2 separate regions of the Homo sapiens genome follow, and region 1 is linked to region 2. The links come from fine-mapping of genetic effects on gene expression. Tissue or cell type: gastroesophageal junction. Region 2 holds a variant in brackets; the other region holds the start of a gene. All regions are shown on one strand. Distances are from middle to middle. Region 1 holds the start of TSHZ3 (teashirt zinc finger homeobox 3). Region 2 holds the start of TSHZ3-AS1 (TSHZ3 antisense RNA 1).

Region 1 (15,056 bases), 26 kb before region 2:
ATATATATAAGGTGATTGAGAGTAAAAATTCACTCTCTCACACATGTGTGTTCAGCACCTACTCTTTCCGCTGTGTGTATTTACACACAGTTAGTGAGCCAGCCTGGGCCAGGCTCTGAGTGGTCCTATCCCCAGGTTCTCCTTGGTGAATGGGCAGGGGAGACTGGCTGCAGATGAATGACTTGCTTTGACTATGTCTGGGGAAGAGGTACTGAGAGGGCTGCTGACTGGAGTGCCGACCACCTCCCGCAGACCCTTTTGGCTGGTAACAGAGATGGGGATCGAGCATTCCCAGAGATAGCTAGGAACCAACTCCAAGCCCTGCTGAGCTGGAGAAAGAACAAGGTGTTCAGCATCCCACAGCAGAGTAAAGAAAAGCAACTGCACTTCTAAAAATTCTGCTTTAAAGGCAAGTCCATGTGGTGCTACAGTAGCTCTAACAGGCACAGCCTAGGGATCTGGCATGGGATGGAATATGGGGTGGGGGAAGGGAAGAGATGATCAGCGGACAAGAGACATCCACTGTTCTTTGGCTCCCATGCAAAAGTCCCCGTTGAGTCAGGACCTCCAGGAAGAGCTGGGCCTGGTTCTGGTGGAGTCAGAAGTGGTCTCATCACCGAGCCAATCTCCCCCATGTGAATCTGCCCTATCTTCCTGGCTGAGCACCTACCTAACCATGGCCAGCGCCTTATGCCTTATGTATATCCCTTTTTGCCCCCTCACTGGAGCTGCCTTGAGGCCTGGGTGCTTCTTCCAGAAAGCATTTTCCCAGGTGAGAAGTTCTGCCGTCTGAAGCCAGCCTCCAGGCACTGCCTGCCCCTGCCTAGGCTCCCACAGCTTACCCAAGGTTTGGGGCTCCAGGCAGGGTGCCCTCCAGAGTGCCCTGGCCTGTGAGGGTGCAGGGTCGTTGGCTCAGGGCAAGATGGAAAGTTTGATATATCTGCTCCACCATTTCATTATCAGAGGGCCTTTGGGAAAGCTGGCCATGTGGTCTGCGGTGGGCAAGAATCTTGTCTTAAAGCTAAGTCAACAAGAGCAAATACACGTTTTTAACTTAAGTGATGGGTTTGTTAGGGGAACCTAGAGAAGGTGGTTGGGCGAAGGAGGCTGGAGCCTTTCTGAAACCCCTCCTTGGGGTCACCATCCACTTCTGCAATCCATCAACACTTTTAAGGGCAAGAGGCATGCGGAGACGCTGCTGTACGCCTAGTCAACGAGGCCAGCCGGAAAGCCTCCTGGGGCCGCGAAGCACCACCCAGACCCCACCATCACCCCTCCCAAACCCCCTTGCATCCCAAACCCCCAACCCCCCATCTCGTCTTTTGGGCCAGAGCGGCCGCCCGCGCTGTCCCGCCTCCAGAGGGCGCTGACGGAGAGGTGGTAGCGCCCGCTCCCGCCGCCGCGCCAAGGGGCAGCCCCAGGGACTCCACCCCTACTACCGCCACCCAGCCTAATTTGAATATTTCATTGGCTGCCGCCAGTCTGGTCAATTTATCATGCAAATGTGGGTGCCCTCCGCGCCAGAGAGGAGCCATCGCCCGCGCAGGAAAGCGGCGCCCGATTGGTGGCCGAGACAGCGGCATTTGTAATATTTTTCTTTGGGCATTAGAGTCATTTACCAATGCCATCCCCGCAACTCCAGGCACTGAATCACAAGCCACTTAAAGGGTTTTATTGGCAGCTTCGAAACTTCTTAACATGCTCTTTTATTTCAAACCAAGTGTCAACCTATTTCTGACCTCCCTCCCTTCCCCTCACCTAAAAAAGCTGCAAAAAACTCCAAACTACTTTGTTCCCTCACTATTTGCACGCGGTAACAGCCTCCGTCTTGCCACAGGTAGAAGGACTGGACCTGTTTGGGGCTAGCACTTGGTAGACCTTAAATAAATAACCTTTGAGAAGTCTTATAAAGGTGGAGGAGGGACTGTTGGAAGAGAGGCACACAAAAAGAAAACAGAAAAAGAAACGAAGAAAGAAATGGGGAAAAGAGAAGAGGCGGCAGAAAAGGGAGAAGGCAGAATTTAGGACTGCTCTGCAAAGGAGGAAAATCTTGGTGTTATCAAAGCCCTGGAGATCAGAGACTACCTGCATGCTATATTATCTAACCCTTCGGGCCACCATGTCCCCAGTCACCCTGGCCCTCCTATTGCCGAACTAAGGTGATATCCATCAAATTTCAAGAAACAAAAACGTGAAAGAATGAGGCCCCCAGAGTGTTGTCCCTCTCTTTTGTACCTGCCCTGCAGAAACTTAGGCTCCGTCTTCCCCGTTTGTAAATTGTAAATTTAGGGACAAACACAAAACCCTAACGTTGAAGACAGAGGAGAAAAGCAATGTAGGAAAGAAGAACTGGGAAACGTGATTATTCCTGGTCTTGCAAATTCCCTGGCCAGTTAATGAGGTCACCAGCCTCAGAAAGCTGGGCTATCTGGTCGGCTAAGACCTGGTGGAATCCTCCTCCTTCAGGATTCCAGCATTCAAAGAGCTGGGGTTCAGAGCCGCATCAGGTTGCCCACGTAATGATTCAGATACCTGCAGTGCGGGGCAGCTGGCGCAACCACACGGGAAGAGTTGGGCACCCCTGAGCTACAACTAGCAAATAGCTGCTCGCTCCCGACCAGGGGTGAGCCCCTAGGTGGCTGCAGCTATCTCTAGTGTAGGGATCCCCCCACCCTTATTTTTAGCTCTGCTTAAATGGTTTCCAAAAATCCATTTCACCCAAAGTGGGGTGGCGGTGGGGGTGGGGGTAAACCACGCCACGCTGCAGCGAGGAATTCGTGAAATTCCCAGCGCAACCCAAGTCGACGCGTGGGATTTGATAAAAGGGCATTTCGCCTGGAGTTAAGCGCTCCAAACTGAGTTTAATGTGCATCTGTCCTCCTTAGACTGAAATACAAAGACGTTTTATTTTCTTTATTTAATCTTCGCTCTCCTAAAAAAAAAGTTTTTGAAAGTTCCGTAGATGATTGAACGAAAGAGAATGAAGGAAGAAAGAGGTATCTGAAGATGTGAGACTCAGAGCACTGGAAAGCTTGGGGAGAGGGGAGGGAGCAGAAAATCGCCATCTCCTGTCTTGGGAAACCCGAGAAAGTGGCCGCTATGACTCACAGGACCAGAAGGTGGGTTTCTAGGCAGACCTGGTTTCCCTCTCCCCACACGCCTGTGATAACCGTACTCCTTCCTTCCTTCCCTCCCTCTTTTAGGTGTATTGTTAAGTGGGTCTTTTTTTTTAAGGTGTTTATAACTGCCTGGAAATCCTAAATCGGAAAAAATGAGGCATTGGAGAGGGGGACCTGCAGGCTGTGGCTTCCTAGACCAGGTCGGCTTCCACCCCAAGTTCTCCCGAATCGAGTGGTGCCCAGGAGTTAAGGGTGGGCCAGACAGGGGCACCAGCTTCCACCCTGCTCTGCCCTGGCCCCGGCCCCGGCCCCGCACACTCAGGCATCAAAGCTGCCCCGGGAAGAAGATCGAAGGCCCCTTTGCCTTTCAGTCAGGCGGTCCTCGTGGAAAACGGCAGCGGCATGCAGTGGACACAGTCTGCAAAGTTGAGCTACATCTCTGTGCCCCAAGCCACAAGAAATTTACGAAGTAGCAAGCTATGCCTGGTTGGAGGAGGGCTGGGAGTGCGTACTCTGGTGTGACAATGCGTGTGTGTGCGCCTGTTTTGGGAGTCGGGGAGGCACTTCACCTCCCCCAAACCAATTCTTGACCTTGGGCCAAGAGAAGCCCCCTACTTCTCTCCAAAGATTGTACTCCCACCCCCAGCTCCCATCCAGGCACACCTGACTCAGCTCTCCTGAGGCCCCACAGAAGTGGTATTAATATACTCTTCTGATTTTCGAAGGTTTATTTCACGTCAAAACTGGAAAAGTTCTTGGGAGAATTTACAGACAAAACATCTGGTTCGTTAAAACAAAGCTACCGGTAAAAGAGAAACAAACTTCGCCGCCGTGTAAATGCACTTTTAGCAAACAATTTACCACCTGGCGAGGGCCAGGGTCCCTATCCTTCCTGCTTGGGCAGGGGCTGAGATTCCGGGGCCCAATTCCTGGTTCAGGTGTGCAGGTGGCAAGCTTCCCTGAACCCAAGGCACCTCCTCGACACTGCCTAGCCCAGAATGTGGTGTGGGGAGGCGTGAGGAAGGCGAAAAACCCATATGCCAGCATTCCAGGTGAGTGCAGGCAGGAGGGCACCCACCTGGTGCCTCTCTCCCCTGGTGCTGCCCAGCCCTGGGCTCCCTAAAAGCCTACACCTTGGGCAAATGCCCTCACACTTTGAAAGGGGGTACAGCCTCCCAGAGGGTACTACTCAGAGTGCCCAGTCCCTCCAGGTGGCCCAAGCCTCCCTCCGAGAACCTCTCCAACATCAAGGCTTAAGCCCTGGGTGCCTGGGACCTGAGCCCACTCTAGCTCCTCATCTTGTAATGGTAGCTTTGAAGACAACTTCTTTCCCTTAAGTCTTTTCCCTCAGTGGCCACCCCAGATAAGGACAAGACTTGGCCTTCTTTGGGTCGAGTTGTCACCTACTGCCCTCAATCGCCACCTTAAACACAACCTCGGCTGCCTCCCGGCGGTGGTTTGGCTACTCCTTTCTGGCACAGACTTCGTGACTTTGTGTGGTGTGTTGCGAGCCAAGTGCCCGTCCCCACAGCACACACCTGTTCCTAGCCTTGCCTGCATGTGACTTTTTTCTTTCTCTCTCTCTTTTAAAAACTTATCCGGGCAGAGCTCCCGGTAGCTAAGGTCATGAATGATCCTGGGGTGGGGCACAGGTAGCTCTGGGGACAGATGTCCCGATTTCCTTGAGTTCAAAAAGTCTGAGGCAGATTTCTAACCCCTGACCTGAAGCAGCTTCATTTGGGAGCTTTTCTACTGATTTTCTACTGATTACATAGCACCACTATGGAGGAGGAGCGGGATTCCACCGGGCCTGAGGTGCAATCGTGGGGGTCAGCACTGCCTTCATGGCCCTGGGGGATGTTTGGGGATCACAAGGTTACCACCCAGCTATTGGGTGAGCCAGCTGGCTGCCATGCGACTGCCAGTTTCTCCAATGGACATTTGCACCTCGGTGTTTCGGTGAGTCGTCCCACCGCCTTTGCTCATTTTTCCTCCTTCTATTTTTAGGGTTTTTTTTTTAATGTTCCCGGAAAGGCGGCACCTCCCAAAGGTGGGGACATCTCACTGGCCTAGGGGCTTACTTTTCAGAGTGACTCAGGCGGGTAGAAGTTACTAGGGCTGGCAGGGCCAGAGCCTGTTGTTTTTCAAAGATAATCTGCAACTCTGAAGAGTGGGGTGAAAAGATTTCTACACAGTGTACATTCTACAGAATTCTAGTTTCTCCGCGGGCGCAGACTTTTCCGCCCTCTAGTCTAGCGTGAAAACAGTTCGACCACTGGATGTGGGCGGCGAAGCCCGCACCCTAGAGCGCGGTGTCTCCCTGCAGGAGGGAGCTCCAGCCCGCGCCGCCGCGGCCGCTTCTGGCCTCCTCGGGAACCGAACCGAGCATACCTCAGTGCTCTCCTAGAAGCGGCTCCTTTTCCCCTTCTTACTCGCGAATGGCGAAATGAATAGCCGCGCGGGATTTTACCCGTTTGTGTAGTGGACTCTGAGGGGGCACCAGGTACCGAGACGGAAATCTTTGCGGTAAGAATAAAGTCAGGTAAAACGCCTGGTACAGCCGCCCTGCAGATGTCCCAAGAGTAGGTCCCCCGTACACTCTTCCCATTAAGTTCTTAGGGGGAGGACAGGGAAGGCCCTTTGGTCTGGCTGGATTGATCAGGGAGGTATGCGCATATGTTTGCCCTCTGGACATTTGGGGAGGGGTTATGGGGGAGTTGAAGGCAAGAGGCAAAATCAGGTAGAACAAACAACTACAGCCAAGAGCGGCACTCTCGGGGAATGGGCACACGGAACTCCGCGCAAACCTCTGGCTTCTCAAACCTACAGCCCTGCCCTTTCTCCCTTTGTAAACAAAATGTGAATTACAGACTTACTGCCATCCAGACACTATTTCTCCCTAAATCTGGCCCTTAGTTCTCACTGGGATCCACGTTTTCCTCCGCTCTCCAGCTCCTCTCCATCAGGCCATGTCACACACAGCAGCCAGGCGGGGCCAAAAAGTTTTAGCGCGAGACCTCCTGGCTAAAACCTGGCCAGCGACCTCGACAACACATCCTAGGCCCAGGTGAAGGGGGTTTAAGCCCTTGCATCCAGGTAGCTTCCGGTTCTGCAGTGTGCTTGGTGCGGATTTGGGAAGTCTCCCTTCCTTCTCTCCTAGCCACACCCAGCCCACACAAGGGCAGAGAAAACCTGGTGGAAAATAATGACTCGGGCGACACTGCCCCTCTTCCTTCAATTCCATCCCTACAATGGTCTGCAAAACTATTCATGTTTGGGGGTCCAGATATTAAGTGGGGGTGGGTACATGTGGCTGAAAGAACACAGATTAGGCCTTCAGGCTGTGCCAAGCCAGGCCGGGGGCCTTTTTGCGTGTCCCGACATGGCAGTATGGTTGCTGCGTGCACTCCGCATAGCCCGTGTTGTGCGTGGCGGGCTGTCGCTGCAATGTGCAGCCCATTGACACTGATGGATGCGCCAATGGTTGGACGGACAGATGTTAGGGCGGATCGCACAGCGCTCGGCGCCTGAGCGGGGGAGGGCCAGGCAGCGACCCAGCGGCGGCGGCCGGCTACGCGGAGACCCGAGTTCAGGCCGCGGCCCGCAGTGGGAGGGGGCCGAAGGAACAGAGGTTTGCAAGAACAGCGAGGGGATGGAAAGGAGGAGAAAAGCGCGACCAGGGAGAACTACACGCTTCCGTGTGCGGCGCCCCGCGCTGTGCACACGCCGCACCGGGCGCGCCTAAGTGGGAGCTTCGAAGGTGAGCTGGGAGCCGGCGGGAGCTGACCCCGTGCGGCGCAACCCGCCTCCAGGCGACAGGAGCTCAGCGCGGCCACCAGAATGGTGAGGCCGCCGGCGGTGTCGGCCAACTCACCGTTTCCTCGCTTGCAAGAAGCGTTTCACGCTCCACGGCCGCGTCTCCCCGGCCTGGAGGAGTAGCGGTTCTGGCCTCTGCGGCCGCGGGCACCCAACGCGCACGGCGCCTCAGCCCCCGAGTCCGCCAGCCCGAGAGCCCCGCCGCAGCCCGCCTCGGACTCCCTGCCCCGCCTGGGGTCCGTACCCCACAACTCCGAGCGCTCCTGCGCGCGGAAAGGCGCTGGAGGCGGCTTTATAGCCGGGGAGGCCAGCGGCGGCGCATCTGCATCCTGGGAGACGTCTGGACCCAGCCCAAGCCCGCAGGCTGGGCGAGCGGAGACTTTTGATCTTACCGTGTGGGTGAGATCACTGTCTCCCGGTCTAAAAGAAAAGAAAGCATGCTGTGAACTTTTGAAACAAACTTGCAAAAACAGTCGTAGAGAAAAAATAAAAAGGACACAGGGCAGAAAAAGAGGGAGAAAGAGACTAAAAAAAGAAAAAGATAAGGGGAGGGGGAAGGAAGGAAGGAGAGAAGGAGGAAGAAGTCTGGGGTTTGCTGCTCCAGGAGCGCTCAGGCAGCCGGTGCTGGAGCGCGGGGCGCCCGCCCTCGCCGGGACTGTCGGCCTCGGGGCCTGCGAGAGCGCCAGAGCCCCAGCCGGCGCGCCCGGGCGCAGGGCCGCCTCGGGGATAGTGGGCCCGGAGGCCGCCCCCGCGCTCCAGCAGCCGCCGCCCGGCAGCGCCCGGAGCCGGCCCCGGCGCGGCCGCCCCATTCCCGGCCTGAGAGCTGGCCCAGGGAGACGCAATCGAGCCCGCAGCGCATCGATGCGCCGCCGCCCGCGCCGCTCGGGCTCCGGCTCCCGCTCAGCCGCCGCCGCCCGGGGGTCGCCCGCATGAGCTCCGGCCCACCCGCGCCCTCACCGCCGCCCGTAAGTGAGCCCGCGTCGCCCCGCCGCCCACGCCGCCCAGCCAGCTCCTTCTTGCCGCGGCCAGTCGGCCGGGCCGGCCCGGAGCCTCAGCGACCCCGATCACCAATCAATAATCAATCCCTCTAGTCCAGCAGCCCCGGCAGGCCGGGCGCGGGACACGGCGCGGCGGCCCCCTAGGCTCTCGGGGGGAGCCCCTGGCGGGGGATGGGCAGGGGAGCCCGGTTTCCTTCTCCCGCCCCCGTCCCGCCCTAGGATCGGCCCGCGCCGTGGATGGGGGGCGCGGCCCGGCTCCCGGGGGCGAGGGGCGGGGTGGAGGGACCCTGATCATCCCAAAGTCAGGAGAGGAAACTTGAAGGAACCCCCTCCCACACCGACCCCCGGGACGGGCCCAGGAAAGTTTGTCCGGGGAAAAAAAATTGGGGGAAGTGGCTACGGCGGGTCCTGGGGGAGGAGCTGGGTGGCGCGGGGTCTGAGGGCTGCCCCCACCCGCCCCGGCCCGCGCCCGCCTCCTCCCTGGAGGGGGCCTGCCCGTGGGCTCTGGCTTCCCCGGGGGACGCCAGCCCCGGCCCGGGGACCACGCTGGGGGCTCCGGAGTCGGCGGGTGGAGAGGAGTGCGAGCCGGGTGGGGCAGCTGGGGGGTGGCTGGGGACGAACGCTGGGTGGGAATAGGGGTGGGGGGTAACGAGCGCCCCGGGACGGGCTCGGCGGGGCTGGCGCCGCGCCCCCGCGTGTGCGCACGGGGCGGAGGCGGAGGGGCGGCACCCCTTTCGCTGGCGGGGCGGGGGTCCCACGCGGGCCTGGGGCCGGGGGCGGGGGCGCGGCGCCCCCGCGGGCGGGCGATTGACACGATCATCTCCTTTTCCTTTAAGCTTGCCTGTTGCCGACGCCGCCGCTCCAGCCGCGCCACGGGCAGAAGACTGGACCGCCGAGCCCCGGGCCGCGGCGGCGGCTGCGCGTCCCCCCGGATGCCGTGACCCCCGGCCTAGGGGCGGGGGCCGGGGCAGTACCGGTCCGGGCCGCTCCCGCGCTCCTCCTCCCACCGCTCTGCCCGCCCTCTCCCCGCCCCCCAGCCCCGAACCCCGCGCACCTCGTCTGGGGACGGGGCGGGGGGGGGCAGGGCCGCCGCTCCTCCCCGCCCCCTCCTCCTCTGGCCTCTGGAGCGATTTGTCAAACTTCCCATTCCGCCGGCAGCGCGGTCCTCCTCCTCCTCCTCCACCTCCTCCTCCTCTGCCTCCTCCTCCCCCCCGTGCTCCTCCCTCCCCGAGCCTCCCTCGCCCGCCCTCCTTCTTCCCTCCGCACGTTCGGGGTTCGCGGCGGAGCGCGGCGCGGGGGGGACGCGGAGAGCCTGGGCGCAGCAGCATCCTGCGGGCGGCCGCTCTCCGGGGGGGAGGCTGAGAGCAGGCCCGCCTCGCCCCCCCGCGGGCCCGCCGCCCCCTCCCTCCCTGTCCTCAGCCCGGCAGCGGCGGCGGCGGCGGCAGTGGCAGTCGCCGGAGAAGCATCATGCCGAGGAGGAAGCAGCAGGCGCCCCGGCGCGCAGCAGGTACGAGCCGCTTCCCCTTCCTTCTGCTCTCCTCCTCCTCTTCCTCCGCTCGCCCCGCGCCTCCAGCGGGCGCGACCCCGCTCCTCGCCCCGCTCTTCTGCCCGCACTGAGTAACTCCGGGCGCCGCTCTCCTGTTTGGGTGCGTGCGCCCGCCTCGGGTACCGGGCGCCCCCCGGACGCCCCGCCGCGCTCTGCCCTCTTCCCTCTCGCACCCATTTGGGGAGCCGCTCGCGGAGCGCGCTGAGCCGCGCCAGGTCCCTACCTCCTCAGCTCTCCGGCTGCAGAGGGAATGGGAAGCAACCCCGGCCTGGCTCTTTCTGTGGGTGGCGGGCGGGGTCACCTGAGTTCCCCGGGACATCTTCCGCGTCCTCCGAGCGGCCGACCGCCGGGGGACTGCCTGGTGTCCGCCGAGCCAGGGAGCGCGAACGAGTGAGCGAGCCGGTCCCCTCGGCCACCTTAGTACTAACACGATTGATTCCTCATTTCTTGGGCCCAAACTGGGCACAGCGGTGGAACCCGGAGCGCACAGGGTCTGGGTATTGTCAGATGACTGTCAAGTCCATGTTAGATGCTGGCGTTTCCTTCTCCCCTGTTTGTGTTTCCTCGCCCCCACCCCCTCCTTGTACTGCTGCTCCCACCCTCATCTCCGCATAGCACTTAGTTCTGGGACGTGTCTGAGTACTTTTTTGTTCCTCCTTTTTTTTTTTTTTTCTTCTTCTTTAACCGGGAGTGTCAACTCCTGTTAAGACTGAGCCGATTTTTTTCTTTTCTTTTCTGGAAAACGCATCATTGAAAACAAAACAAAAACCACACACATAACATTATTTTGCAATAATGTCGGTTGGGGGCATGTTGCCTGGAAGAAGGGTTTCTGGCCCGTTGCCATCCTTGATTTGATGACTGATTGATCGCCCGTCATGCTGCTGCCTTTGATCTATTCATTCCCAATAAACATCAATAAATCACTTGCAATAGTGAGGCCAAGCTCTGTGACGTCAGGAGGGCCCTGTCAGTGCAACTTTGGGATTTGGGGCGGATTGCCGAGAGGACCACATATGGACGTGATGTATTTTGATATGAGTAACACTCAGATGTGCAGAGGTTCAGATGCTCCCTGAAGGGGAGGGTTAAGTGGGGCTTCCTTTCTTTTCTTTTCTCTTCCTTTCTTTTACTTCTCTTTTGATGTTAAGAGGGAAGGGCAGAGAGTAGGGTCAGGGCATTGGCTGGTGCCCATCTTGGAGGAAGGCGTTGTAGCCATGGTGCCCTGAGTGCCCATAATTTCCATCATGCCAGCCGGCACTGCCAGGGGACCTCACACGTTGGCTGCACTCTGCACTCCAGACCCCTTACACGGGGTCACAGAGAAGGAATGATAATTCTCTCTTCTCCCAGAAATGTACTTGCCTGCCAGTGTCTTCAGAAAATCTCAGAAGAAAACAGGGTTGGTTTGGGGCTTAGGATGCAGGTTTTGCTCTCTGTCCTCGGTGTTGCCCAAATTTAGAAAGTTTGAAAATTCCAGGAGTGATTGTAGGGAGCTTGCCGCCTCCCTAGTTAACCTCCTGGAGCTTGCTTCTTGCCCGTCCCACCTTCTACTTTAAATTCCAGGCTCAAGCAATGAGCTTATCTACCCAAAATAAACTCTGAAACTTTGGAGGAATCCTTCACAAAGTTGAGTAGTAGGAATGTCTTGGGCTTCTTCCAGTCTTTGAAATTTTTTTTTTCTTTCCTTTTTGGATACACATTTTAAGGTATGTGTGTGCCTCCATCCAATGAACCATATGTGATTACATCTTTACATTTGGTTCAGAACTCTCTCTCTAGTTCATCTCTTCGGTTGCACCCTGCCAATCTGAGACTCGTATTTGATAGCTTCCTCCAGAAAAATATCAGAGGAGGAGGGAACCTGCTGTTGGCTTTATTTATTTATTTATTTATTTATTTTTAGAGCAACCTGTTCACTAACCTTTTCACACTTTTTTTTTTTTTTTAAAGAAAGCCAGCCAGGAAATCTCAGGTCAGTTAAGAAAAATTCATTATATAAAAAACTTGACTGCAGGACTAATAGGAGATGGAAGAATGGTTTTGCTCTATCAAAATGACCCGTCAAAACGACTTTGTTTCATATTTGATTTAATTGTCTCTCTCCTGACAGGCACATTCATCAATAGCTTAATGGTCAATCAGAAGCTGGCAGCATGAGTGCTTTATTTCTTTCCCATACTCGGGTTTTGGATTTACTTTATCAGAATGCCTCTGCCTAATGGACATGTGGAGGAGGGGGTGGAGGCGGACTGAAGAGCTACTTATTTAAGAAGAGTGGAGAGAAAAAAAAAAAACTCCACATTTAGGCTGGTGATAAGTATGCACAGAGGTTTTTTTTTTGGGGGTGGTTTGTTTGTTTGGATGGACCAGAAACTTCCCATTTTTTTCTCCTCTTTTTTAGTTTTCCCAGCTGCAAGTTATAAGGTTCATGCCAGCTTTTGTGGCATACTGGGAGTGATGACAAATTGATTGCTTTGTACTGATAGAGAGAGAGAGTGGGGAAAAGAAAGATGTCTGCTGATTGGTAACTGGAAATCCAGTCCCCAGCAACCTTGAGAATACTCGAGAATTTTTTTCCCCTCCAAACTGAAAGGTCCGCTCAGCCATAAAAAAAGAAAAGTTGTTTTGCCAGCTTCATTAGTGTTCACCTAATTAGCTGTAAACCTGATGGATTCCTGACAGCTTTAATGATTGGAGATGACAAGCTCGACGCAGTGTCATCCAGCAGAATTAGGTTTGCAGCTAGTTTGATGTAATCAAGTTGATATTACACAGTCCTGGCTGCCTTTAGTTGTGCATTAACTCAATTTTCTGCTGCAGGTGACAAATGGGCTTTGGTACCTGGATAATCATGTCATAGGAATTAGGGCCCTTTTAATGGTCTAGGGTAGAATAACAACCACAAAAGGCCAAGAGCTGGGTAGGGCGAGCAGACGTGGCACACAGGTACACACGGTCTTCATATCTAGGCCAATGTATCATTGCTTTCCCGAAGGCCGAAGCAGGCTCCAAGAATCCCTGAAAATACATATTTCTGTACTTTAGGATTTTTTGATGTTTTGATAGAAACTATGTATGGCTTAGGGTCTTTTCTCAAAGAGAAAGAGAGGTTTCTTTACCTGCCAAAGAGAAACCTGGGCGGGAGTTTGCTTCCTTGAGACCTGTAATTTCCAGGGGGTGTGCATTTGTGCTGGACAGATGTTGCTGCTTTTAGAAGCTCAGAGGAGTGGGGTTAGGGAAGGACAGTGTCCTTCAGGCAAAATGACCATTATCCCCTGCTTAAAGCATGATTTTCTCCTGTTCAGAGTGGTTTTTAAAAAACATTTCTGAAAATGCCAGAAAAATTTTAGTGTAATACTTAATAGCAGATATTTTACTTATATTAATTTTCTGGAGGCAAATGTGAAATCATAAAAGACCATTTCTTATGCTTCCAAAAGAAAAAAAAACCAAACAAAAAACAAAAAGAAACCATCGAACCACAATTTGCCAGCAAGCTATATTCTTTGAAAGGGGGTAATGTTCCGTGGAGTTCTTAGGTGGTAAAAACAAGGCAAGGGTAAATCTTCAAGCATCTTGACTTTTGTGAAAGTGACTTGGACCCCCTAGGGTCTGCTGGTGCCACAGAACACTGTGGATCCCCCTGGAACAGCCAGAGGGGGTTCCATGTTGCCAGTAGACATGGGCATGCCTAAGAGGTGGCCCACCTGGTGGTGTCCAGATGACACCTTCCTAAGTCTGGTCCACACATCGGGCAGCTCCAGGAAGGAGCTTTTCCGTTCTCTCTTGGAAGCACATGGAGCATTCAGAAGGGCATTTCGGCCTTAGCTTTGGGAATTTTTTTCGTCTCATACCTGCCACGTATTTCTCCTTGGACAGGTATTCTACTCTGTAGCAAGGTGGCAGAGCGACTGGTTTTGACCGTTCTATGATTTTTTTCTTCCCCCATTTCCTACGAAATGAGAGCAACAATGCAAATTCTAAAAAGGAAAGCCAAGAAGACGAAGGAGAAAAACAAAGGAGGTGGGAGGCAAGGCTATTCCCTTGGATGTCCACGTGGGGAAGAGAACCTTCCAGAATCAGCTGCGGTGCCCCCATTATCTTGACAGCTGTCAGTTAGGGCTTCAGTGCTCTCCAGGGCCACACTTGATTGTGAGCTGTTGATGTTGTCATTTTGTTCTCAGTTTTGCCTTGAGCGCGCTCATAAACAGGAGCCAGATAGTCAATAACTGATGCCTCAGCAGCGATTCCCTAAATTGCCTCACACGTCTGCCTTTTCCCCTCTTTTTGCTAAAGATTGTTTTGTCAAGTGATTAGAATGAAAGGCGACTGCTCAGGGCTGTGGGAAATACCGTGAAACCCAGGTGAGTTGAGAGAATTAAAACCATTCCTTTACCGCCGCCCTCCACTCCTGGGATTTCTGGAAAGAGAAAGGACCTACCTTCTTGAAGGCAGAGTGCCTGGACCTCTTGTGGTGCTTTCTCTTTTACACGTGTCCTGCCAGAGTCAGGCTGGGGCCAGGGCTGCGGCAGGCAGGCAGGCAGGCCCGCGGGGAGGCAGAGAGGAAAGGATTAGGAAGTGCCCGGTCCTGGTGCACACAGCCATGTTTAATCCAAGAGTGGCAGCAGTTCACAGTTATCCCAAGTGCAGTTTGTAAGGCTTTCCTCCTGCCCCATTTTCATCCCTGCCTGTCACTGGGCAGAGGGTAAAAATAGCTTTGGTCATGTCGTAAAACAATTAATAAAAATGAAATAAAGTAGGGTGTGTGTGTCTACCCTTCTGTGTTAGTGTCCAGCCCAGGTAGGTAGTTGGATCTTTCAAATCAGCTGCTTTATCACACCCCTGTAGCATCACCCTCAAAGCCCATGGAGGGGAAAAGGACAGAAGGGAACAGTGGTATCCAGTATCCCAAACCCTTGCAGGTGTTCACTCTGTGTGTGCGTGTGTGTGTCTGTGTCTGTGTTTTAGTTATGCTCTAAATTGTGGTTTCTCTGTCTGAAGTTACAAATGAAAGGTGAATACAATATATTGTATTTAGTAACAATGATATGGACTGGTACATCCAGACAGATAATGTGCAGTTGTAATTAGACTCAATAGACAGGCAGTCATTTTTAAATTCTTTGACACATGCATAAAATAGTCATATAATAAGATAAGATGACAATTTTATGTTAGGTTGATAAAGTGTCCCGATACATGCATTTAAATGTCTGTAAGCCTTTTTAAAAAAATCCAGACAGATTAATTCCAGTTTCCAGTATTTGCAATTAGTCACTAAATTTTTAAATCCCACTAAACAATGGCTATCAATATTTTTCCCCTGTTTCTGGATTTTCTTTAAAAAAAAAACAAAAAAAAAACCTGAATTGTAAGGACTGGAGACATAGACTTGGTAGCTTTTCTTAATTTTTCACCATTTGTAGAAATTTACGCTTAGAAATGGACTTAAAAATTCAGGTCACTGTTTGTGACCAGAATAACGCTATGCATTTTTGGAAGTAAAAAAAAAAAGACAGTAATAGAACATAATCTTCTTATGACCACTTGCCTGAACAACTGTCATACTCTAGG
Region 2 (15,056 bases):
AGCAGTCTACCCTCCTCGGTCTCCAAAAGTGCTGGGATTACAGGTGTGAGCCATGTGCCTGGCCTACCCCTGTTTTGTTTTGTTTTGTTTTTGTTTTTTGCCTTTATTCCTATGAGATAGTAAGTGCACTAGCCACTGTAATTGCAGGCCTGACCCAATATGGCTTTTTCTCTGCTTTGCATTGCATTCATATCACGGTGTTCATAAAATTAGAAATAGCGAGTTGTGCAGCTTTTTTGAAGAACCCCAGTAATCACAGTCCCCTAAACTGGAGTCCCCACCAAACTGAGACTAAGTAGGGATGGGTGATGGCCCTGTGCAAACTTCATGGCACATCTCCGTTCCCCAATACAGCTGATAATTTTAGTGGATTTGTGCCCCAATCACATCTGATGAGGGGTCGTCGGTCATCGTGGCTCCAAAAAATGTGATCTCAGTTTCTATCCCATGACATTATATTCAGTAAGTGAAAATGGCCTTGAGCTTTCAGAGCCCCACCAGCTCCGTGGTTCCCTTCTGCCATGGCAGTGTGGGGAATGCAGCAGTTAACACTGTTTATACATTCCAGGGGTATTAAGCAGTTAGGTTACTGGAATCGTGGCAGAGCGAGTGGGAGCCGCATTCTGGGTTGTGTCTCTGTAATCAATTACTAAACATATCATGAAATTCCAGATGTAATAATAAAGTTTATGATGATTATATTGTCAGGAGGCCGGGAACACACCACCTCATTGACAGCTGAAGGAAGCAAGAGAATCAGCCTAGGTTTTGCCTGTAATAGGAAAAAGGGTCTTCTTTTGCTCCCATCAGTGATTCTGCATACTTTTTGTGAATGGAAACATGCATTTTTTGGAGACTCAGTTAGAGGGGGAAAAGGGAGAGGTTGAGAAGGGAACACCCTTGGTTTTATGGGGGACATCTTCTTCACGTACCTCCTCTCCCTTCCTCCTCCTTGCCCCTGCCCAGAAGAAAGTGCCCGGGGGAGGTGACATCTTCTGCAGTCAGGGAGGCAGGCTTGGCTGGGGCCCAGCCGCTCTGCCCTTAGAAGCAGCCACCCCTCCTTACGAAGGTGCAGCGTGCTCTGGTGTGGAAACATAAAATGGACGTTCTGTGAAAATCAATTGACTGTCCCGGCTGGACCAGACAGCTCTGACACCACAGTAGGTGGCAGGTGGTGAACATAAGGTACCCAGAAACCTTGGCCGCAGTGACACAGTGAATGCAGCCGCTGGCCTCCTTCCTTGCAACACTATTTGTAGTTTCTTCTCTCTGTGCGTCCATGGCATTTCCAGAAAATGCATCTTGAGTTGACTTCCCTTCGTTATGACACAGCACTGCAAGCAGGGTCGAGCTGCAGTTGGGAAGTTTCAGGGCACATTTCGGCCACATCTGCTGGTACCAGTAGGACCGTGATTGTTTTGGTGGTTGTATGAGTGCAGATTAATTAAACAACAGTAACAAAACAGAACAAAACAAAAAAACAGCAATTCGCAGCAGATCTGAAATATCAGTGACAAAGACAAAAAAAATGATAAATAAGCTATTCCAGGCTATGAAAGAAAATTAATGCCCCTTTAACTCATCACTGCGCCAAAAGTAGATAATAAAGTGCTTACTATGAGAGCGGTTTTACAGACATGTTTCCTGAGGCTCTGGTACAGGTGAGCTCAGGAAGGCCTGGTGTCGCTCTGTCCACATTCCCCGCGTGCCCTCTGAATCTCTGATGCTTTGGTTCAGCCCGGGGGTCTCTCTTAGGCCAGGGTTACATGCGCCGTTTCCCTCCTTCAGTCCTTAGAGGGAAGGAGGGGGTATCCCTTTCGGTGAGTCATAACTCTGCCGTTGGGTTGGGCAGCTCTCATGTAGAAGGGAGATTTTAGGAAGCCCGTCTTTGCTAGAATTTGCCTGGCAGGCCCTGCGTTTCCCATTGTCCTTCTGCCACCATGGTGACTGGGGACATGCCCGTGCCTGTGGGGGACAAGCATGCATGTCAGTTTTTGGGCATGTCAATGCTGATTCCTGTGCCCTGGGGTACGGCCCACCTTCTCTCGGTAGAGCTGTGACCCTGCCAACAGGAAGTGCTGGGAAAACAAGCTCCTGACACCTCCGTCTGGGGTCTGGGGTCGCCTTCTCAGCGTGGGCTGCTTCATGACCCATAGGTGTTCTGGACTTTCCTCCCCCCGCCCAAGGATTAAACAGCACTTGGCTCCTTGTTAAAAGCACATTGATGTTTTGAGCCCAGAGGGAGGTGTGGATCACACAGCAGGTCAACAGCCTCCATTTTGCACCCCGCCATTCCCTGTGGCTGGTTAAGGTGGGAGTGGGTAGGGAGGAGAAAACAGAACTAGAGAGTGACATTGGGGCGATGCTGACCGAGGGTGTGACCCAGGCCAGGCCAGGCTGCTGTGGCCACTGACCTGCTCCTCCCTGCACTTCACATGGGAGCTCGGGCATTGGGAGCCGTCAGGCCAGTCCTCAAGGTACGGCCAAGCAGCCCGGAGGCCACCTCCCGAGGCCTGTGCTAGCAGCTCCTGGTCCATGCCTGCCGGTCAGCTCACTGCTCCACCCCTGCTAGGCGTTAGATGTTTCCAGAAGGCCTGAGGGCCAGGCAGGTGAGGGGCTTCAAGTTCACTCAGGGCAGCTGTTGAGAGTTTAGCGAGTTTTATTTTTGCCCCCAAATTTAAAAGTATCACGGAAGGCAGAGCTATTACAGAGAGAAACCAACCTTTTGGTTATCACACAGCAGCTTTTATGAATTAAAAAAAAAAAAAGGATCTTGACCCTCTTTGAAAGGAAATAAAGTAGGAACCCAGTGTTAAGGAAAACAAAAAAGCTGATATTACAGTTTTTATGATTACTCATATCCTAGGCTGGAGCTTGAGGAAACCAGTTATAATGGAATTTCATTTTTTTCTCTTCCTAGTTGTGTGTCTGCGCTCTTTTTTCCATTAGAATGAGGAGTGGTTCATACTTGGTGTGGAAAAAAAACACACAACAATTTTGGCATGTGATCCTTGCTCTTAGTTGACCCAACGCTGATGGGACTGAAGATAGAATTATGCGGCCTTGTAATTAATTATCGAGCTATAAGGGGAACTGTGGAGTGAAGAGAGAAAGGGATGGAGTTACACAGGGCGGTGTTCCTGCCTCTCTCTCCACAAACACCCCCACTCCCAAGTGCTGTACCCAGGTTTAGCTTTGACACCATAAATAATGCATCTTCCGATATTCAGAAGTGAAAAATCTAAAGCCATCTAGTGGTTCATTTTTATTGGTAGCCACTGTATTAGCACCATTTAAAAACACTATTTTATTGCTGTGAGTCTGCAAGTTGCCAGTAGCAGTTCACCAATTTCACCGGTGTGAGGTGAGGGGTAAGATGATGACCAAAAGCAGAGATGCCTCCACTCTGCCTAAATTAAATGTTTGTGCAAGTAAACTTGAGCGTGCCCATTGCCAGGGCTGACCTTATACCACTAAGTTCTTGCAGTGGCCTGGATGATTGTAATGGAGGTAACGTGATATAAATGTAAACTTTAGCCCTGCTTACACAGAATGCACAAGGCAGCGTGACACCTTCATTTCAGTAGTAAGAAATTACCATTGTCTCTTATTTCTTGCTCGGAGCTTGGGTGACCAAGCCAAGAAGTAATTACACAATTAGGGTTGACAAAGCAGTTCCTGTAACATTTCTTTCTCTTAAGTTTGGGTAGCTTATTTCAACTTCACATTTTCCATATCTTTGTCATTAATAACAAATATCCGTTTTCAGTGCAATACATGTGCCGCATGAAGATTGGGAGCCTAGTGTAATTTAATGATGAAATGTGAGCATTTCATTTTCTGTAAATGTGGCTCTTTGAAGTTTAAGGTAGACATCCAGGAGCTCACACGGCCCCTGTACAGGAAGTTGACTACCAACTCTTCCGCAAGTGAGATTGGTGAACAGTGATTGGGAGCCACTCCCGCTTAGGTGACAAAGATGTTTGAAAGGATATGCAGATATGTGACATGGCTTATCTGGAAGGCTGCCTCTTCAAAGTCATCTCCCATTACTATGGCTCCAGATAATTCTTTAATCTTAAATTGTGTTATCTGCAGTATGTATACGGTATTGTAATTAATTGTCACCAACTTAAAATATAATCTGTTTGGAGTTTATATACCATCTAGGCCTGACCCTTACCTAAAGAAGAAAACACCTCACAGTTTCTCTCTTCTTATTTGTTATTGGATATGAAAGGAGAGAGACACTCTCTACTAAAGAAAAATAGACCTGTTAAGATTTAACCCGCCATTCCTTGAATAAGATGTTCTCAGAACTTCTGTTTTGGTACCAGCTAATGCTGCAAACAAGCTTTGAAACATGGATGGCTCAGCTGGGAGGTGAATGGCCTGCAGGAAGGTTGGGCTCCATCAGCAGGGGCCAGTCCACTGAAGCAAGTCAGTCCTGCTGCCATTTGTCAGCCTGGGCTGGCCTTCCAGAGCCCATCCCTGGTGTGGGAGAGGTGCCAACGTGGCCCGCAGTCCCCGCTGTTTTATAGCTGATGCTATATGCACACACCCAAGGCTTTTCAAGGCTCACACTCAGAGAAGTGCCCACTGGTCTTCCCCTCAGGTGGACAGAGTGAGTGAGTTCCCTGCTCCATGAGCCTAGCACTTCGCTTTTCAGCAAAGGTGCCTTGGTTTTGGGTGGATCTTGTATAAATGAATTCTAGCTGGGGGCCTGGGCAAAAGTTATATTTCTTCTGACAGAGTTTGTAGCAACGTTTTTCTTAATTATTCTTGATGTTTTGCCCATTATACCATTAGCTTCTTCAGAGGACAGAGATAAATAGCTGGTATCTGCAAGAACAAAGTGTGAACTGAATGCATTTAATTATTGATATCTCAGTAACTAAAGGCTCTAGAATGATGTTGTCAAATGCCTTAGTGATCTGACAGCCGATGTATTGGTTTGCAGATGCAACTAGAGACAATGTCCATGTAAACTCTAGAGAAAGAGAACACTAAACAAATAAGAGAATATCGTAGTTCATTTTCTCATTTCTTTATTTTTTTTCCCAGTGCAATTCGTTTCATTTTGTGTATTGGATTTTGAGGTTTAGGGGCTGTGCAGGGTGTTTTATTTCAATATGTGGTAAGATACAAATTGCCTTCATACTATCATATTATTGCCTTTAAGTATACTGCCTGGCTCAGTTACATATACACTGTATATTTATATGCGTGTATACGTGTATTGTGTGTACATATATGTATTCTTACATATGTATGTATATGTATGGTACATATGTGTATCACCTAGTGGAAATCAGTGTTCTCACAGTCTTATTCTTATCAGAGGGATTTTTAAAACTAGCCTTATATGCATGTTTTCAAGAATAAAGCAGAATGCTAACAAAGTGCATTTTCCTTCCCTCTCATTAGATATCAGATCCCTTTCATATGTAGAAAAGTAAGGATTTCAGGTATTTATTCTGACATGTTGACATAACTCCACATATTCAGTTACCTCAATTTTTAAAATCTATTTTACTATCTCTCACATGTAGAATATGATTCCCAGGGTTTAAAACACACAAGGAAATTGATCGCTGTTCAAAAATGTGCAGCGGTAGCCCAGAGGCTCAAAGTCTAGAACCTCGAGCTACAGGTCTCAGGGAAGAAGGGAATTGGTCGAACACATCCAGTAATGCCGTGGAATATTCTTTTTTCCTTTGAAGGTTTGGCTTACAGTACTGTTCTCATGATCATGTTTAATTCTATGTTTTTTCTAAGGGCTTTTTACTCCTCTGCTGGTTTTTTTTTTAATGAAACAGAAAGCTGCTGCCTTTCAGTAGCCTGGCTGAGTGCTGTAAGGAAGGAGAGTCTACATTCTGGACTGCTCACTTCTCTCCAGGATGCCTTCTCTGGCGTTCCTCACATGGAGCTGGACTTCTCCCCTGTATTTGCATGCTTCTCTGGCCTGTGCACACTGGCACACTGGGGCACACATAGGGTTTCCATCAGAGCCGAAGGCTGCGTGAGACTTGGGGAGGATATTTATTTGAAGTTGCACAAATGTTTACAGTAAGGGAGACTGAGACATGGGCACTCGCAGTGCAGAGCTACCCTGAGCAGAGGAACTGCCTTTCCCTCCTGTCTTCCATGTGCTCCGTTCTCCCTAACAGCAACAAACATGCTGTCTTTTGCAGCTGCTTACTTGGAAATTAAATAATGAGCCTCCTGAAGATGGTTGCTTCACACTCCGAGGTTTCAGCCCCATGAGAAAGTGACTTACAGCGATAGATGAGGGGAGGTCAGCACCACCCTCACTGTGCAGGCTCCGAGCATCTGGGTGTGGGTGTGTACGCGTGCTCATGCACACACAGACACACGCAGGCACGTGTGCACATGCACACACACGCGCCAGGCTTCTAAGCATGCAGGGCTGCTCTACAGAAGCTACCTAGAGCCCTGAAAGATTTGACAGTAGCTTTCTCTCATGAAAGTGGATGCATTGTCATTCTTTAAATTAAACAAAATGATGTCCATAATGCAATATTCAAGAGAATCAAAGGGTATGCAGTTAAAAGAGAGTCTTCTTCTAACCCCAGCTCCTCAGTTCTTCTCCCTAGGGGCAAGCACCGATACCAGTTTGTAGTATAGTCTTCTAGATATTTATGTTGGTGCAAAAGTAATTGCAGTTTTGCCATTAAATTAAAAGTATATTTTAAATATTTTAAATGAGAAATCCACACTTTACACTCCATGTTGTACCTGTTTTTGTCTAAGAATATACTTTGGATATCTGCAGTTTACTTTGACATGCATCCAAAAGTTAAGATACATGGAATGATGGGTATATATGTGATAAAGCAAATAAAGCGGAATGTTAAAGTTTTAAACTAGGTGATGGGTGTACAGGCAAAATTCTTTAAACTTTGCTGTGTATATTACATTGTACATAATAAAATGGTGGCAAATCTATGTATCTCAGTCATCATCTTATATCATGTTAGGTTTCAGCTGCTATATCCTACCATATTTTGTTGCACAGAGCTGCCTTATACTTTTTAAGGGCCACGTTTGACTCTAGTGAATGAGTTACCCTCTGCATGGACATTCTGGTTGCTTCTAGTCTTTTCTTTGACAAACAGTACCATAGTGAACATCCTTCTGCACACGCCTTTGTATAGTAATGTCCTTCCACTTACATCCTTGTGGGATGCAGTCCTACAGGCGGAATTGCTAGCTGAAAAGGTATGTTCAGGTTAACAAAATGATAAATATCCAAACTGTTCTCCAAAAAGATCACACACATTTCGCTTCCCACAGCTGCGTGGGAGTGCGCGCGTGATGTCTCTGGCCGTCAGCGCTTAGGTAGGACAGCATCACAGTCAGCAACCCCTTCTCTCGCTCAGCAGGCACCCAGAAGCCTCCATGCATCAACAAAAATGGATACGGATATGAAAGCATATGAATCCCTGTATTCATCTCAGACATCTTTGCCTTTTTTATTTCAGTCTCTGGGTGACAGCAAATAGGTAAATTCATAGGATCACAGCCTTTTAAATTCATCTGCAGGGACAGCCTCATTGGATGGACGGGAAAACTGAGACCAGCCTAAGTTCACATGTCATTCCCTGGCCGGTCCCGACCAGTGAAAGCACTGAGGGTGTAAAGCCTGGCTCTGTGGCCGGACTGCGGAAGCCCTCTCCATAGGCATCCTCATTACCTGAGGTCGCTCAGAGAGCCCAACGGCCAAGACACAGAGGCACTGTGCCCGTATACTACCTATGTTTAGTTCCTACGGAGCACAGCGGAGGTGGCTGGCTACAGCG[C/G]GGAGCTTCTTAGATAATGACCGAGGAATACTGAAAATGTCCTTTTGGGTTTTAGCTGAATAATATTTAAGGATTTTGAAACAGTGACTTAATTTTGTTTTTATGTAATTGATGGCATTGTAGTAAAACGTATTGAGACACCACATCAGCATTTTTCTAACTGTTCCTTGGAGAAAAATATGCTCATATGAAAATGGTTTCTTCACTTTCCACTTACGGAATTGAAAAAATAAAAAAAAAATCACTGTGCTTCCATGGAATCACTATACCCAGAGATTCTCTAATTTTAAAGGGTTTTCCCCTCTGGACTTGGCCTACATAATGCAAGGATACTTTGCCTTTCTAAGTGGGGTTGTCCCTTGTTTTAGAAGCAATGGTAGTGGAGACAGAGGGACTGTTGTGTCAGAGAGTTGGTGCAGAATGCTGGTGGGGCAGATTTCAGGGAAGTTCCATATACCAGAGGCCATAGGCCTCCAAACCTAAAACCCAGTGGTAAGTCACTTCCCATTCAGGCTTCACGCCCCTTGCCCATTCTTTTGGGTTTGGAAGGTGCTTGAAGGAAAGCTGTCTCAATGCTGCAGTGTTGGAAACTTGTGTCTGAATTTGAAGCCTTCATCGTGTTATGTTGATATCAAAGAAATCAGGATATTTACATAAATTATATTAGTTTTCCTAACTTGACACAATTGTTTATATGCGGGAGGTGTAAGTCAACTGGCAGTATTCATCTTGTTCCAAACTTTGCTGCTTAAGATTTCATTCTGAATAGTCAAATTGTAAACGTTAAAAATGAAAATTCAGACTGGATTTATAATGATGGAAAACTCACAAGTCTACTACATTAAAATCATAATGATAATAATAACGCTTTCAAAACAACCTTGGTTGCCTCTCTAGTAGCTTGGTTTCCTGCTCTACTGATGGTAGGCTGGCCCAGTGTGCACAGCCTTGAGGGCTTGGCTGTGCAAGTTGATGTAGGGGCGGAGAGCCAGCATCAAATTGGGTGCTGCGGAGACGTTTTTTCCTCCTGCTTTTGGTTGTGAAGATGCCCCTCGTGGCTTCTGATCCCTGAGCCCTCGGTGATGCCTTGAATGAGGGTAGCCCCACATGCAAAGGGATGCCCTAGGCTGCCTATCCTGCAATGCACTGTGTGTGTGTGTGTGTGTGTGTGTGTGTGTGTGTGTGTGTGTGTGTGTGTGTGTTGGAGGCCAGGTTCAAGTACAAGAGCAGCAGCTGCTGTCTTTACCACCTGGGAGAAAACATCTTTCTGAGGTGTGTGGCAGTGTGGGAAGGTGATTGTGGATGGGGTGACTGTGTGGGAGACTGTGGTGGGTCTACCCTGATGTATCTGCACCTGAAGCCAACTTCTTCCTGGTCTAGATGTGGACATTTCTTAAAGTTTATCCTGGGTCTACAAATGTGAAATCATCTGGGTATTCGTAAACCAGCCGCATCACTGAGAGCAGAGGTAAATCCAGTGCTCCCACTTGGTAGAGTTCTTTGACAATGAAGCTGTGTAGAGGTGAACAACAAAACCCACAACAAAGATAAAGAAAAGAAAAGGAAAAATATGCATTGATAGAATTATGCTTTGTCTTTCTACTTAAATGGCAAAACTCATGTGTCTTCACATCTGGAATAAATGTGATGTTTTACAATTAAACCTATTTACGGGAGCTCACCATTGGATCATAGCATTTGCTTTCTGATTTTTAAAGGCCCCCAAACCATTGAATAGTAAAGAGTGCTGAATGCCATGCAGTGAAGTTCATGATCATAGGCTACTCTGTGGAACTCAGGGATCTACGGTGGCAGCATGCTCCTGGGTGAGTTGGGCAGCTCCTGGCTGGAAGAGGGAGGCCTGGCCTTTGGTGTCTGGCTGTATGGACTTCCACTCCTTTGAGGTTATCTCAGCATTTGATAGCAGAAGGCTGGTTTAAAACATTTTCATGTGAGAGAAATGCTCTTGACCCAATGTTGCGTGAAAAAAGCAGGTTGCCAAATACAATACCAACCCAACACATTCACACACATGCACACATTATAAAGGGAAAATAAAAGGAATAAGCACTCCAAAATGTAAGGGTTTTTATTTTTCTGCTTTCTTCTATATGCCTTTATTTTCCAAATTTTCATCAATAGACATATATTGCTAATCCTTGATGTTGATGTTATCTTGTATCAGAGAGCTTTGTGGCTGGGAAGAAGGTAACTAAATAATTAGTTTCATTTATTCAGTCATTCATTCGTTCTGTCACTCATTCATTCATTCATTCACTCATTCCTTTATTATGTCCATCACTAATTTATTCCTTCACTCATTCATCCATTCAAAAAGTAAGTACTGGCTGGGGATGGTGGCCCATGCCTGTAATCCTAGCACTTTGGGAGGCCGAGGCAGGAGGATCGCTTGAGGCTAGCAGTTCGAGACCAGCCTGGGCAACATAGTGAGACCTGGTCTCTACAAAACATTAAAAGTTAGCTGGGCATGGTAGCATGCATCTGTAGTTTCAGCTACTTGGGAGGCTGAGATGGGAGAATCCCTTGAGCCCAGGAGTTCATGCCTATAGTAAGCTATGATTGCACCACTGCATTGCAGCCTGGATGTCAGAGTGAGACCTAGTCTCTAAAAAAAAATACATACATAAGGCTAGGCACGGGGGCTCACGCCTGTAATCCCAGCACTTTGGGAGGCAAAGGCAGGAGTTTGAGACCAACCCAGCCAACATGGTGAAACCCTGTCTCTACTTAAAATACAAAAATTTGCCAGGTGTGTTGGCCGGGAACCTGTAATCCCAGATACTTGGGAGGCCGAGGCACGAAAATCGTTTGAACCCAGGAGATAGAGATTGCAATAGGCCAAGATTGTGCCACTGCACTCCAGCCTGGGTGACAGAGCAAGACTCCGTCTGAGAAAAACAAAAAAAAACAAACAAACATAAAACCATTATTCTTAGCAAACTAACACAAGAACAGAAAACCAAACACTGCGTGTTCTCACTCATAAGTGGGAGTTGAACAATGAGAACATATGGACACAGGGAGGGGAACATCACACACCGGGGCCTTTTTGGGGGTAGGGGGAATGGAGAAGGATAGCATTAGGAGCAATACCTAATGTAGGTGATGGGTTGATGGGTACAGAAAACCACCATGGTACGTGTATACCTATGTAACAAACATGCACGTTCTGCACATGTACCCCAGAACTTAAAGTATAAAAAAAAAGAAAAAGAAAAAACATCTTCAAGGAAATGCGTTTACTCATACATAATATATATAAAAATATATATTTAATAAATATGTAATCAACGACAATTAAGCACTACCTTCTTTCTCTCCTGGCCTCAACTCTGGCTCACTCCCTCTGTCTCACACACAGTCTGGATGGAAAGTACTGCTGTCCACGTCGGGCCTGCTGTTGTGGGGAAACGAGGATACATCATTAGTGTCAGGTGCTTTTGACCTTGCTGCCTGATTGTGGCCAGGCCCCTTGCGTTAACCTGGCGTGAGTCTGCCGTATGCAGACACCTTGGTGTGTTTCCATGAGGTTTCAGGCAGAGCTGTAGGCTCCATGTTTAGATTTCATAAGAGTAACCAGAAATGCACTTGCTAGGTGGGCAGTTAAAAACAACGGGGAACGGTCTCTGGAGTGCTTCAGTGGTGAGCCATGTGATGACGCCACCGGGCATGTCCTAGGGGCACTGTGAAGTTGGAAGGTAGAGCTCCGATTGGCGGGCCAGTGAGCAGCGTCCAGCCCTGCCTGTCTCCCATGTCAGCCTTAAGTGAGAGCCATGGCCTTCTCAGCACTGTCATTACCCACCTCCACCTTGGAATGATTGATTCATCAGGTTCAGAGGATGAACTTAGACATTAAGGAGCTGGCCAGGCCTTGGTGGAAAGGGATGCTGGAAAAAAAATTATAAAGCACTGTATTTTGCTTGCATGGTATCACTGCCATCCTTCAACAGGACACAGTTTTACATTCTTTATGTATTGCAAAGTGGGAGACAATGTATTGACAGTTGCCAAGCTATGATTTTAAAAATGTGAAGCAGATCTTCTGTGGACGATGGATCTTGAGGCTCTGGGCCGGATGACCTGTCCTGACACCTGCTAACATCTCAGCAGGACCCGTAGGGAAGGGAATTCTGCCTCCTTCTCCTTCAGTCATCTCAGAATTGAACACTGCGCAGGACTCAGTGACATCCTGCAACCAGAGATACAGATATTCTCCCAGGAACACCCAGACCTACAGCTGAAGCCAGGATGTCTTAGTGGAAGGGACCAAGAGCCAAGGAGACTTCAGCCTCCTGGTTACTTCCTCCCTGCAGCCTGGGTGCACTGCAGACTCAGGCGCAGTGGCCATTAGTGCTGTCTCTTGGACCCGCACCTGACCGTGTCTTAACTACAACAACCTTCAAAGGCTTAGGTCCAGGGAGAGGTCAGTTACTCAGATCATCCTGAACATGTCCCTTCTCCCGAGAAGGACACATCATAAAACATGTGGCCCCCAACCCGAGGACAACTGCAGTTATCATCCCTCGCAGGTGGGCCCAGAGCACAGAACACACCTGTCACTCCAGGTGTCACGTCTCAGAAAGACATTTTCTTTAAGGTTAAATAAATAACATTCACACAATGGAATATTTTAGAGCAGTAAAAATGAAGGAACGGCAGCCACGGGCAACAGCAGGGATGGATCTTAGTGATATTATATGGGTAGATAAAGCAAGTCAAAAAGGACTACGTCCAGGATCCGTCTTTTCTACAAAGCACAGAAGCAAACACGAGCCTAGTATTGCTTGGGGGTCACGCATTCATGTCCAGGGTCATATTTACCCACCGCCTGCCTGAGCGGTGGAGAAGCCCCGTGGTCATGTTGTCATTCTCAAGTTGGGTCCTTGTTCACAGGCATTTGTTTGGTTATTATACTTAAGAACCTACATGTATATTTCATCTGTTTCTGTATAGATCAGATGTAACCCGAGAAAATGTTTCAGGGTGTGAGCTCCCTAATACGTCAGGTCATCTGCAGCTCTAAGCTCTGGTTTTTGAGCCAGGCTGTAGCGGTTACGTCCTAGTTTAGGATGATTTGGCAAGAAACTCTCCATCACTTCTATCAACTGCGTGTGTGTTGGAAAGAATTAGGAAGGAAGGGCCGATTGCTACTTTCTCAGGGGGGCTGCATCTTAAGAGTCCATATATGTCATTCAGCTAATGAAGCCTGCCTTCCTGCCCCTAGTAGCAGCCTTTTTTTTTCAAAGCAGCTTAAGTAGAAAGAAAACTTGTTTCAGTGATGTTTGTGCTTTTGAGGGCGACAAAAGGTGTTACACTGTTGTTTTCTTTGTGATTACCGTTGTCATGGTGGTTATTTGTCCCTCTTCAGTGTTCTAGTAGAAACTTTCTGCCTGGTGATGCTTTGAGGGGCTATGAGCTCATGGTGGGTGAGCCCGGGTTTCCTCAGGGCCTGCCTCTCAGTCCTGCAGAGACATCAGTCTCCCTCAGTGGTGGGCTGGGGCTCAGGGGAGAAGCCCAGGTTGTGGCTGGGTTTTGCTGTGCAGACCTGGATATGCTCACCTTAGGGTTTCAGCCATTTTCACTTCTTCAGTGTGGCTTAATTGTTTGTGTCTCACCAAGTGATCTTCATATATATGAGTAGCTTTTTTTAAAAAAAATTACTGATGAAACCTTTACAATGTTTATTGGAAACAATGATTTATGTGCAAAATTCTTAAAGAAGGAAAACCTACTTTTCTCTATTTTGTAATAGAAGGCTTTTGTGTTGACAACGTTCTTCTTTTTATCTGCAGCTGAGCCAGCCGTCTTGGCAGGTGCTATTCATAGCCTGCTTGTTTCTGCAGTGTTGCTAAGTTGTGAGGTGGGGATCCACACTTTCCTTAAGTCCTGTTGTTTTTCTCTATAGGGGAATGAACTAGGTGGCTTTTAACAGGAGACAGTTTTGACGCCTGCTTTTTATATTCAGATGTACTCACCCAGGAAAAGCAACTTCTCAGGTCCCTGGTCTCCGGCTCAGAGGATCCTTGATCAGACAGAGCTGAGATTAATGAGCTGCTTTTAGCCATGGCACCAGGGTGGTAGGATTGTCTGGGCCATGGGAGGAGCCCATGAGGAGGCACCAGAGCTGCTATAAAGCCCTGCTCTTGGGACTAGGTGTTTGCCACAGTATTGGTGACCGGATCGTTTGTTCCTGATAATGGAAATCTCATCATTTAGAGATGGCAAGTTAAGATACTTTTATTGAATGAACTTCCTGCGAAGTTTCTGAGCCATAGTTGGGCTTATGACATAATTGCTATACATGTTGATACCATCTTTTATCATAATTGTTTTTCATTGTTTTTAATAAAAGGATAAAAATAATAGGAGACATTTTAGAAAGTGGTTTTTTTTGTTCTTTTATTCATGATACTAAAAATTACCCAAAATAAGATATTTTACAAAAAAAGGATTTTGTTCCAGAAGTGACTAATTTAAATCAGTTTATACAATGAACTTGCTAATGATCCTCAGTCTAGAGAAGTGTAATGCTTTTATACTGTTATCATTTTTTATGAATAGAATTATACAAAAAAGTTCCTATTGTGTTGTACAGTGAGTTTCACACAACCATCCTTTATCAACAGATGGCAACCAGCACATGAAAAATAATTAAAAAATAAAATGAAAAGAAACCGAGAATGAATTAAAGTGCTTCTTTGCGTTCCGATCTGCATTTTTGGTTTAGAATTTTTATGGTGAATTGCCATATTATCTGTTATATCAGTTTACAATGAGGCTCCTATCAGACATAAAACAGATTTATAATACCATTAAAATACAATATCAAAGAATGAATAAGCAATTCAATAAAATTACAATAACACAAAGATAAAATGAAAGCCTTTTCAATAACAGTTTTATGCAAGAACATTTTGCAGATAAATATGTGTTTATAGATCTTTTAAATGTATATTTATTATACTGTTCCTAATAGAGCCACAGGGGTTAATTTTTCCTGTGTGTTGTCTTTTATAAGTGGTTTAAAAGCTAGCTGCAAAACTCTTCAATAGATTGTTTTGAATCTTTGAATTGATTTTGGTAAAGGGAGCTTTTACAGTCCTGCAGCCGAATGTTCACACACAAATGAGTCAATACGGCTGGGCCCTTTTACCAGGGGTGGGAGGTGCCTGGAGGAGCTCCGTGGTCACCTGGGACCCAGGCGTGAAAGAG

The links.
Region 1: it holds the start of TSHZ3, and the variant in region 2 is fine-mapped to the expression of TSHZ3 in gastroesophageal junction (GTEx, PIP 0.95).

What each region holds. Positions count from the first base shown.
Region 1 is chr19:31,343,564-31,358,619 of GRCh38, reverse strand. It overlaps TSHZ3 (teashirt zinc finger homeobox 3), which reads left to right and starts at 9,184. Exons shown (of 2, transcript NM_020856.4): 1 at 9,184-9,440. The coding sequence starts at 9,401. It overlaps TSHZ3-AS1 (TSHZ3 antisense RNA 1), which reads right to left. Exons shown (of 3, transcript XR_002958388.2): 1 at 9,703-15,056. RefSeq lists enhancers at 3,390-4,033, 4,976-5,475, 5,476-5,977.
Region 2 is chr19:31,317,833-31,332,888 of GRCh38, reverse strand. All of the region lies in intron 1 of TSHZ3 (teashirt zinc finger homeobox 3), which reads left to right. It overlaps TSHZ3-AS1 (TSHZ3 antisense RNA 1), which reads right to left and starts at 11,058. Exons shown (of 3, transcript XR_002958388.2): 1 at 1-11,058. RefSeq lists an enhancer at 13,518-14,019. The variant C/G (reference allele first, on the strand shown) is at 7,824.